Linked DNA regions of Homo sapiens: region 2 is linked to region 1. A link means that fine-mapping ties the variant in region 1 to the expression of a gene that starts in the linked region. Tissue or cell type: whole blood. Region 1 holds a variant in brackets; the other region holds the start of a gene. All regions are shown on one strand. Distances are from middle to middle.

What was found. PIP is the estimated chance that this variant, and not a neighbour inherited with it, causes the effect.
Region 2: WNK2 starts here. The variant in region 1 is fine-mapped to the expression of WNK2 in whole blood (TOPMed, PIP 0.96).

What each region holds. Positions count from the first base shown.
Region 1 is chr9:93,265,482-93,269,596 of GRCh38, reverse strand. It overlaps WNK2 (WNK lysine deficient protein kinase 2), which reads right to left. Exons shown (of 30, transcript NM_006648.4): 17 at 1,681-1,851; 18 at 1,532-1,577; 19 at 851-970. LOC124902214 (a long non-coding RNA gene) reads left to right here and starts at 936. Exons shown (of 2, transcript XR_007061668.1): 1 at 936-2,155; 2 at 4,017-4,115. The variant A/G (reference allele first, on the strand shown) is at 2,240.
Region 2 is chr9:93,182,297-93,186,411 of GRCh38, reverse strand. It overlaps WNK2 (WNK lysine deficient protein kinase 2), which reads right to left and starts at 2,273. Exons shown (of 30, transcript NM_006648.4): 1 at 2,027-2,273; 2 at 802-1,484. The coding sequence starts at 1,482. RefSeq lists an enhancer at 1-235.

The DNA of each region.
Region 1 (4,115 bases):
TAGGCAAGGCTGCTTCTCTCTGATTTCTCAGCCCAGGCTGAGGCCAAGCCCTTTACCTGAGATCACCTTGTTTCAGCTCGTTGCTTTGTTTGGATTTCGTTATTAGGCTGACCTGTCCCCCATGGGAACGAATCTCCAAAAGATAATGGGAGTCACTGGAAGCACATGACATAAAATTAAAAATGATTTACAGATATTTTTCATGAATGTGCCATAAGGTTATGTCAAGTTATAGAATCAGTAACTTTCCCCTGCCAACTGGTAAGGAATTAAACCTTAAATTTGTTCAAGTGACTATTTTCAGCCTCCCAAAGGACCAACAAGATTTAACTGACAGCCCAAAGCACGGGCTTGTTGGCATCTGTACAGGCAGGTGCAGGTGCAGATCAATGCACAGTGATAAATGTCTGTGTGAACACTTTAAAATCAGAGTCTCAGCACCAACAGGGACTTTCCCACCCCACCCCCCAAAGCAAGCAGAACCAGCAGAGGCGTGTCTGCTGCAGGTGTGCGGCACAGAGGAAAGGGACAGGAGCAAGGAGTTGCCAGGTTAACACTGTGAAGGAAGGACAGCGGAGCTCTTCAACACACACCTATATGGCCATGCGAGCCACCTACTTGGTGGGGTAACAGGGCAGACTCAAACCTGGAGGCTGCTTTGACTGAGCTGATTCAGCAGAAAACAAGGATAGGAACACAGCCCCACAGGCTGCTCTGCGCCATGGGAGACAGGGCAGGGTGAGCCCCCTGCATGGACCTGGGCACGGGGCACATACCGGCTGGGTCATGCACAGAAGGAGGCCTGTACATGAAACAGGGAGGGGCTTGTGTGGGCGCCTGCTGCTCATACCTTGGCTGGCTTCTGGCGGCAGGGAGCTTAGAGGAAGTGGGGGCGAAGATTCAGGGGCCTCGGGGGCGGGGTGCTCAGCCACCGGACAGATGATGAACCACCTCTTCCCGGTGTGCAGGACTGAAGGGCAGAACAGAAACAGCACGCTGAGTGAGTGAGCGCCTTTCCAGGCCAGTGTGACCCCCATCACCTGCACCAGACTTGCCACAGTGGGTCTGTGAACTCCTTTACACCTATGGGATTTTCTCCAGGAAGGGTGTGGGCAGAGAACACTGTTCCCAGTCATTAATCCCCAACGCTTCCCTCCACGAAGCAGGTGGTTCCCCAGGCTCCTTGGTAAAGAGGCCCTGGTGATGGGCTTCTGCCTGCTCTTCCCTCACACCAGAGGGCAAGGGGTGCACAGCAGAACCTGGGGTGCCTCACTGGCAGCCCCCGAAGCTCCCGAGAGGACCCCTCGCGTAGGCTTGGTTCCTGGGATGCCCAAGGCACCATCCATGAAGGCCGTGATGCCGGTTGCAGGTGACAGCTCCTCGGACAGGGCAGCTGTCCCCAGACTGGGGCCCCTGGTCACCACATGCTTCCATAATCCCCCCAAGCAATGGCCAAACCCCTGGTAATATGCTGAGTGGGGACTTTCATCAAACGCCTGCTTAAAAGCAGGGAGGGAAGTTGCAGACTCACCGTTCTGCTGATACACGGGGGCGTTGGCTTGGGATTGTCGGCTCTCCTGAATGAGGTGGAGGGTCAGAAATGAGCCCACTGAGCTGCAGCGCCCACCTGCCCAGCCACTGCACTCTCACCACCTCCCACCCCGGATTTCACAACCTCACCTCCCCGGTGCCCAGGCCGCAGGTGCTGAGGTGTGGCGGGCTGGTCCCTGGGTCGGAGCCACGGTCGGCGTCTGTGTCCTCGCTGAGCATGTCCTCTGCCTTGTCCATGACATCCTTCATCTGCTCGATGAACGTTTCCCGCTCGGCCTGCAGGATAAAGTCATGCTCCACCTGCAAAGGGACATACTGCCAGTGAGGACCAGCTGCAAGGCCAAGACCACCCTAGGTCTTCATCTGGATTGACGGATGTCTACCCTGTACCAGGCCCCAAGGGAAGAATGGTGAAAGGGTGCAGTCCCCAAGACAGGGGCTGGACAGCTCAGCAAGTGACATGGATGGCCCCAGGATGGGAGGAGAGCAGCCTCATCTTGAGAAGCAACTCCCTCCTCCAAGCATGGGACCTGGGCCAGCAATGCCCTGCCCCAGCTGGAGCTGGTTACAGACCCTGAGGCCGGTCCAGCCATCTTCAGAACAGGTAAGTGCATAGGATGCAGGGGGCCGAGGACGGGGACTGGGAAGAGGGGAGGGGGTCCATCTGGGCACAGGTGCCCAGGCAGTC[A/G]TGACAGACAAGAAGGATGGATTTGAAGGCAAAGGTTCCAGCCAGCAGGAGGTTGTGGGGGACAGAAAGCAACAGGGGGACGGGAAGGTTATAGCAGGATGGCCATATGTCACCTGTCGGTCTGCGCACCCCCTGCTCTCCCAGCCTCAGGCTTTGACCTTCAACTATGGCCCGGGCACACAGGCAAGCGTGGCCTGATGTCCAACGAGCAGCTCCTGTCATGGCTGAGGGGAGGTCCCACACCACAGCCTGAATGCCACGAAGCCTCCAGACCAGGGGCTCAGGAGATGTCCACAGTCTCCAACTTTCACAGTGGGCATGTGGCCCTGGGCTCACACCGGCTCTGGCTAAATCCTCGGCCATTCAGGCAGAGAAAATGCTGTGCATCTCATAAAACCATAACCAATGGAAGAGGTCAGCCTGTGCCACCACCCAGTGGGGTCCAGACCCTGCCCCTTTCCTGCCATGGCACCTCCTCCCAGGCAGACACCTCTGCAGTCACCGAGATGCTCTAGGCCCTGCCTGGGGCATCTGTGGTCTCAGATCCCTTCTAGGATGGGCACATCTGCCCTACTATAAACAGCTGGCTGAAAAGCAGAGCTCCTCTGCGCTCCACACTCCCCTGGCACCCCAGACCCCAACCCCAGGAGCACCACCTGCATACACCTCCAGACAAAGTGCTGGCTTGTGCTGTGTTCCGTGATTCACCACTTAATTTAGTGTAACATGTGACTGCAATGTTGTCTAAGAGGAGTACACTGTGGCCAAAGTTGGAACATCCAGCCAGCTGTGACTGGAGTGCCACATACGAGAATTTAAGCAACGTTCCAATTTTGTGAAATTTTCACTAAACAAAACTGAACTAGAACCCCTTTGCAACTAGAAAATGTTTTCCTATTATGTTTCTTTTCAAGTATGTTGAGAATAAAATTAACTTGAAAACAAAATAAAAATCTAAAAATACAAGGTCCAGGTAAAACCTGGCATTAGAATCCACGCCAATTAAATGAAACTTCTGCAGTTCCACCTTTACTAAGGGGCTGGCAAGGTCGTCATGGTCAGAATGATGAACCCAAGGCCTGCCGACCTCTAACCACTGATGGGACATTCAGGGACAGCTGGTACCTCACACTCACAGAAAGACAGTCCACAGGGCGGGCAGAAGCTTGTCTAAACAGCGCCTGTCCCACAGGCCACACACCCACCCTTCAACTCGAACCTCTGGAGCCAGTCTGTCCCTGGGATAGGAATGGGCTGTGAGGAGGAGGGCTGCTGGGCTGTTTTTATGGACCAAATTTGTATATCTGTAGCATGCTTACTTCACACAGGTATGTTAGGTGACTTGGTTTACTAAGATGGCAGAAAAAGCAATAAAATGAGAGGAGTATCCGAGTGCTGAGTGAAAAAAACAAGGCTGAGAAGATGCTATTTTTACAAAGCACACAGCTAAAGATAGCCCCATTGCTTACTGTGCAGGACTTACATGTGTGCAGCTCACAAAGACTCACACACAGAGACACACAAGAAGACTGAAAACCAGGGGGCCAGTGGACACGACACAGGCTGATGTGGCTGATGTCGCATGTGTGGCTTCCTGCTCGGGCAGGCAAGCACTGGAAGCGTCAGCCGCACATGCAGCATCAGCTGGTGGCTGAGTGATAACTTCACGGGTGTTCACTTTATTATTATGCTTTATCATGTTTGAAACACATGTGTATAAAGTAATACAAGACACAGGTTTAAAACACAGTAAGATGAGAGAAGAAATGTTCTCCAGTTTCAGTGGCCCAGTGAGGACCTGGTGTTTGTGCTGCGCTGACGAACCAGCTGCTTGCTGCTGACAAAGACTCCTCCCTGACCAAAGCGCAGCTCACGC
Region 2 (4,115 bases), 83 kb after region 1:
GCTAAGGTGGCTGTTTATATAATCTTGCAGGGCTGGGGCTGACACCACGGTGATGGCAGGATTATGAAAAATGCATGCCCAGAGCCTCTGCAGCCAAGAAAAACCCCCACACGCATTCTGCATGACTCGGTTTTAAGACCTCTCACACGTCCATTTTGTGAACAAATGGAGCTCTCAGAGCAGCAGAGGCGACTAACCACACTTCCAGGCCTTGCCCAGCTGTCCCCAGAGCTCTACCAGGCACCACCTCTGGGTCACAGGCCCTGGGTCAGAAGAAGTCTCTGCAGGTATCCCTGCTGGGGCAGCCACGGCTTGCTGGACACAGGAAAGTACTAATTTATGGGCAGCCCAGAGCCCCCAAAACACTCTGACTGCACACACCGGGCCTTGAAGCCTCCACACTGTTTTGCAAAGACACAACAGTCCAGACTCCCTGGGTCATTAAAGTAGGTCATCGGGACTGGAGAAGCAGCAGCCTAAGAGACACAGCCTCCGAGGCCCACTCTCCAGGACCCTCTCTACGCCCACAGCGTGCACACTTACACCAAACGCACAACAGAGGCCTGCCCTCGCCACCAGCTGACTCACAAACCGCAACCTGCGCACGGACACAGCCAGGCCCCACATGCCGTCCGCACACCTGGTATGCATCCTGCCAGCCATCCACACAGAGGGTGACACACATGGAGCCCCGCCGCCCCCAGGGCTTCTTAAGGCCAGGCGCAGGAGCAAGGACAGGCCCAAGGACGCACTCGCGGACAGACCCTGCGGAAAGCCCCCTGCGGGCTGGGGCACCCTCACCTGCAGCTCACACCAGGCCACCTCCACCCAGGTCTCCGTGTCCAGCCCCTTGTAGACCGTCTTGAAGGAACCGCGGCCCAGCTCGATGTCGAACTTGAGGAAGCGGCCGTCCAGAGAGGTGGCCACGGCCTTGAGGTCGTCCTCGTCGTCCTCCTCCTCTTCGGGCTCGTCCCGGCGAGTGCGCCCGGGCTCAGGCTTCGCCTCGGCCGCCCCCTCATCCTCCTTCCTCACGGTCGCCGCCGCCTCCTCCCTGGGGCCGCCGTCGGGGGCAGGCGCGGTTTCGACAGCGGCTGCGATGGGGTCCGGGCCGGGCTCCTGCGTGCCCACGGGCTCGGGGCCGGCGTCCGCGGGGGCTCCGGGGGCTCCCGGCTGCGCTACCAGCGCTGCGGGCGCGGGGGCGGCGGGGCGTCCGCGGGCGCGCTCCGCGATGAGGCGGCGCGTCTTGCAGAGCAGAAGCACCCGGCGCTGCAGGGGCTGCGGGGGCTGCGGGCCCGGCGCCTCGGCTGCCTCCAAGCCCGGCGGCTCCTCCTGGTCCGACTCTACCACGCTGCGCCGCAGAAAGCGCTGGGGCCCCGGCCGCGCCGCCTTCGCCCGAGGCTCCGCCATGCCCGCGGGCCCCGCGCCGCGCCCGGGCTCCATCAGCGTGCCGGGGACGTCTCGGCGGCCGCCATCGCCGTCCATCTCTGTGGGCCAAGGACACACAGGCCCGCGTGAGCGCCGGCCCTGCCGCACCTGCCCAGGCCGCCGGATGAGACAACGCCGCCCTAAGCCCGCAACCTGCCCAGCCCCGGCCGCGGAGAGAGCCTGCGGGGGCCGTCTCTGGGGGCCCTGGGAAAGGGGGGCTGCAGACGGGACCAGAGGCTTGGGTTGGGGAGGAGGGGTCCGTGCCCTGCTCAGCCCCAGGCTGCGGAGAGGGACGGGCCTGTGGTGTCCCTGGAACCCTGGGAGAGAGGACCTGCTAGGGTGTCCCTGAGGGCCCCGGAGGCCGGCAGAGGGATCTCGCGCCCTGCCCAGCCCTGGCCCAGGAGGGTTCTGCTAGGCTGTCCCGGAGGCAGCTGTAAAGGGGATAGGGAAGCCCGGGGGTGGGAGGAAGGCAGTGGCCCGGCGGCGGCTCCACAAAGGACGCGGGCCCGGGGCGCGGGAGGGGCGCGCGGGGAGGGGGCTGCAGCGCCGCGGCGCGCACACAAAGGCGGCGAGCGGCGTTGAGGGGAGGCTCGGCACTCACAGGGCGAGCGGACGCCGTCCATGCCCGCGGCCCGGCGGCCAGGGCGTGCGAGGCGGGAGAGATCACGCTTCGAGGACGGGGTCCGAGTTCCGGGCGAGGTCCGCGCTGGGGTGGGGGCCGTGGCGCCGCTCCAGCTCCTGCGCGCTGCTCTCTCGGGCCGGGCCACTGCGGGGCCGCGCTCCCGCGTGCTCCTGCCGGCTTCGCGCGGCTCCGCTCCCGCACCGGCTCCGACCCGGCGCGCGGGGAGGGCGGGGCTCCGTTCGCCCCGCCCCGGACCGGCGCAGGGGGCTGGGCCTGGCACGCCCACCTGGCTGCGGACGGGCTGGCTGACTGGCAGGCGCGCGCGGCCACCTGCGGGCCGGCTACCTGGGCTCCCACCCGCGGTTCTTTGCTCGAGGTAGCGCTCCTGTCCTCTGAAGTTCTTTGGAACGCCCCGCAGGGCTGTCAGCTGCGGAGGACCCCGTTTCTTCCTGAGAGGAGGCAGCAGGCTCAACGCCTCAGCACGCCGCAGCCCGGCGCGCTAGACCTCAAGGCCCTGTGCCAGGACAGAATGGGCAGGCTAGGAAGAAAAGGACCAGGGGTACCGCCGCCCTCGGGAGCCCAGCCTGGGGCTAAGCCTGGTGGGGCTCAGCGTGTCCTTTCCTGCCCTCACTTCACCACCAGGAACCATGAGGACCTCATCATCACCCAGGGAGGCACTGGTGATCATTATGCCCATTTCACAGTCTAGAGCAAACTGAGGCGCCAAAGGCAGAAGTTATATGCTCTAAATCCCAGAACTTTCAAGACCGAAGCTGAGCTGGAATGCCTTGGATGGGATATGGAGAGGCTTCCAGAAGCCCCTTGACCCAAAGTGTTCTTCCTTCCCACCTCTGCCAGATGCCACCTCTCCCGAGAAGTCTTCCATGATCTCTAGCTCCTTCCTCCTCTAGACCCCCACGGACAAGCCCTCTCTTGGGCGTCTCTGGCCCTAATGCAGCAGGTGACCTGTGTCAGTAACCATACTGCTAAGTTCTGAGCCCTGCTCCAGGCAATGCCCTGAGCTAACACTTCACCCTTACCCCAGCCTCCATGATCCTAGGTGAGGAAACTGAGGCACAAGGGAGATACCAGAGTATTCTCATCTCAGTCCCCATCCCACTGGGCTGGCACCCCCATCAGATACACACACACTTCCAGAGATGAAAAGATGCTTGTGGGCCTGTAGGCCTTGGAGCCCCTGGCACAAAATAACTCATGTGGCATAAAAGCCAGCAGAGGCGATATCTCACCTTCACAATGTAGAGGGAAGAATATGCCAGGCCAACTGTTACCCAGAGAAGCAGGACTTCCTGGAGCCCCGCTGGGCACTGGCACTGGCTGAAACTAATTTGTGAGGGGCAACAGTGAACATCCCTTCCCAGCTCTGGGTTCAGCAATGCCACCCTGTAGCCTGAAGTCAGCAATGCTGGGAGTATTTACACTGCGGAAATTGGCAAACACCTCAAATCAGGACTTTTCTCCCCAGAGAGCCAGTGGTTAAATAGTGTGCTAGGTGTAGGGCTATGCATTTGGCACTTGCCTGTTATTTATATAATCTAATCTACCGTGTGAGACAGGCATTCATTCCGGGGCTCAAGTCCGCTGGCATGAGCCCAGAGCTCACACGAGGAGGAGGCCAAACAGCAGACGCCAGCTCTGCAGGACAGAGAGGCCTGAGGGACAGGGATCTAAGTTGCATCTCCTGGGGCAGGAGTCTTCCAGGTAGAGGTCAGGGGTGGAAAAGGATCTTTTCTGTCTTCCCTTTGGAGGCTAAAGACCCCCCAACCTTGCCCCTAACCAGCTGAGTGAACTTGGGCAAGTCCTGGTCCTTCCTGAGCCTCAGTATCTGGCCCTGCAGAGTGGGCTGATCATCCTGACTTGCCCACCTTAAAAGGCTGCCAATTCCTTGTAGATTCAGTCAATCTAGGAAGGGCACCAAGTCCACAGACCTGTTCATGATGGGTGTGTTCAAGCCTATCCAAGGGAAAACCAGGATGGGACAGAGCTAAGCGTGTTCTGAGACCAGCACACACCTATCTGGCCTCCTCCTGCTCCCAACAGGCCACAC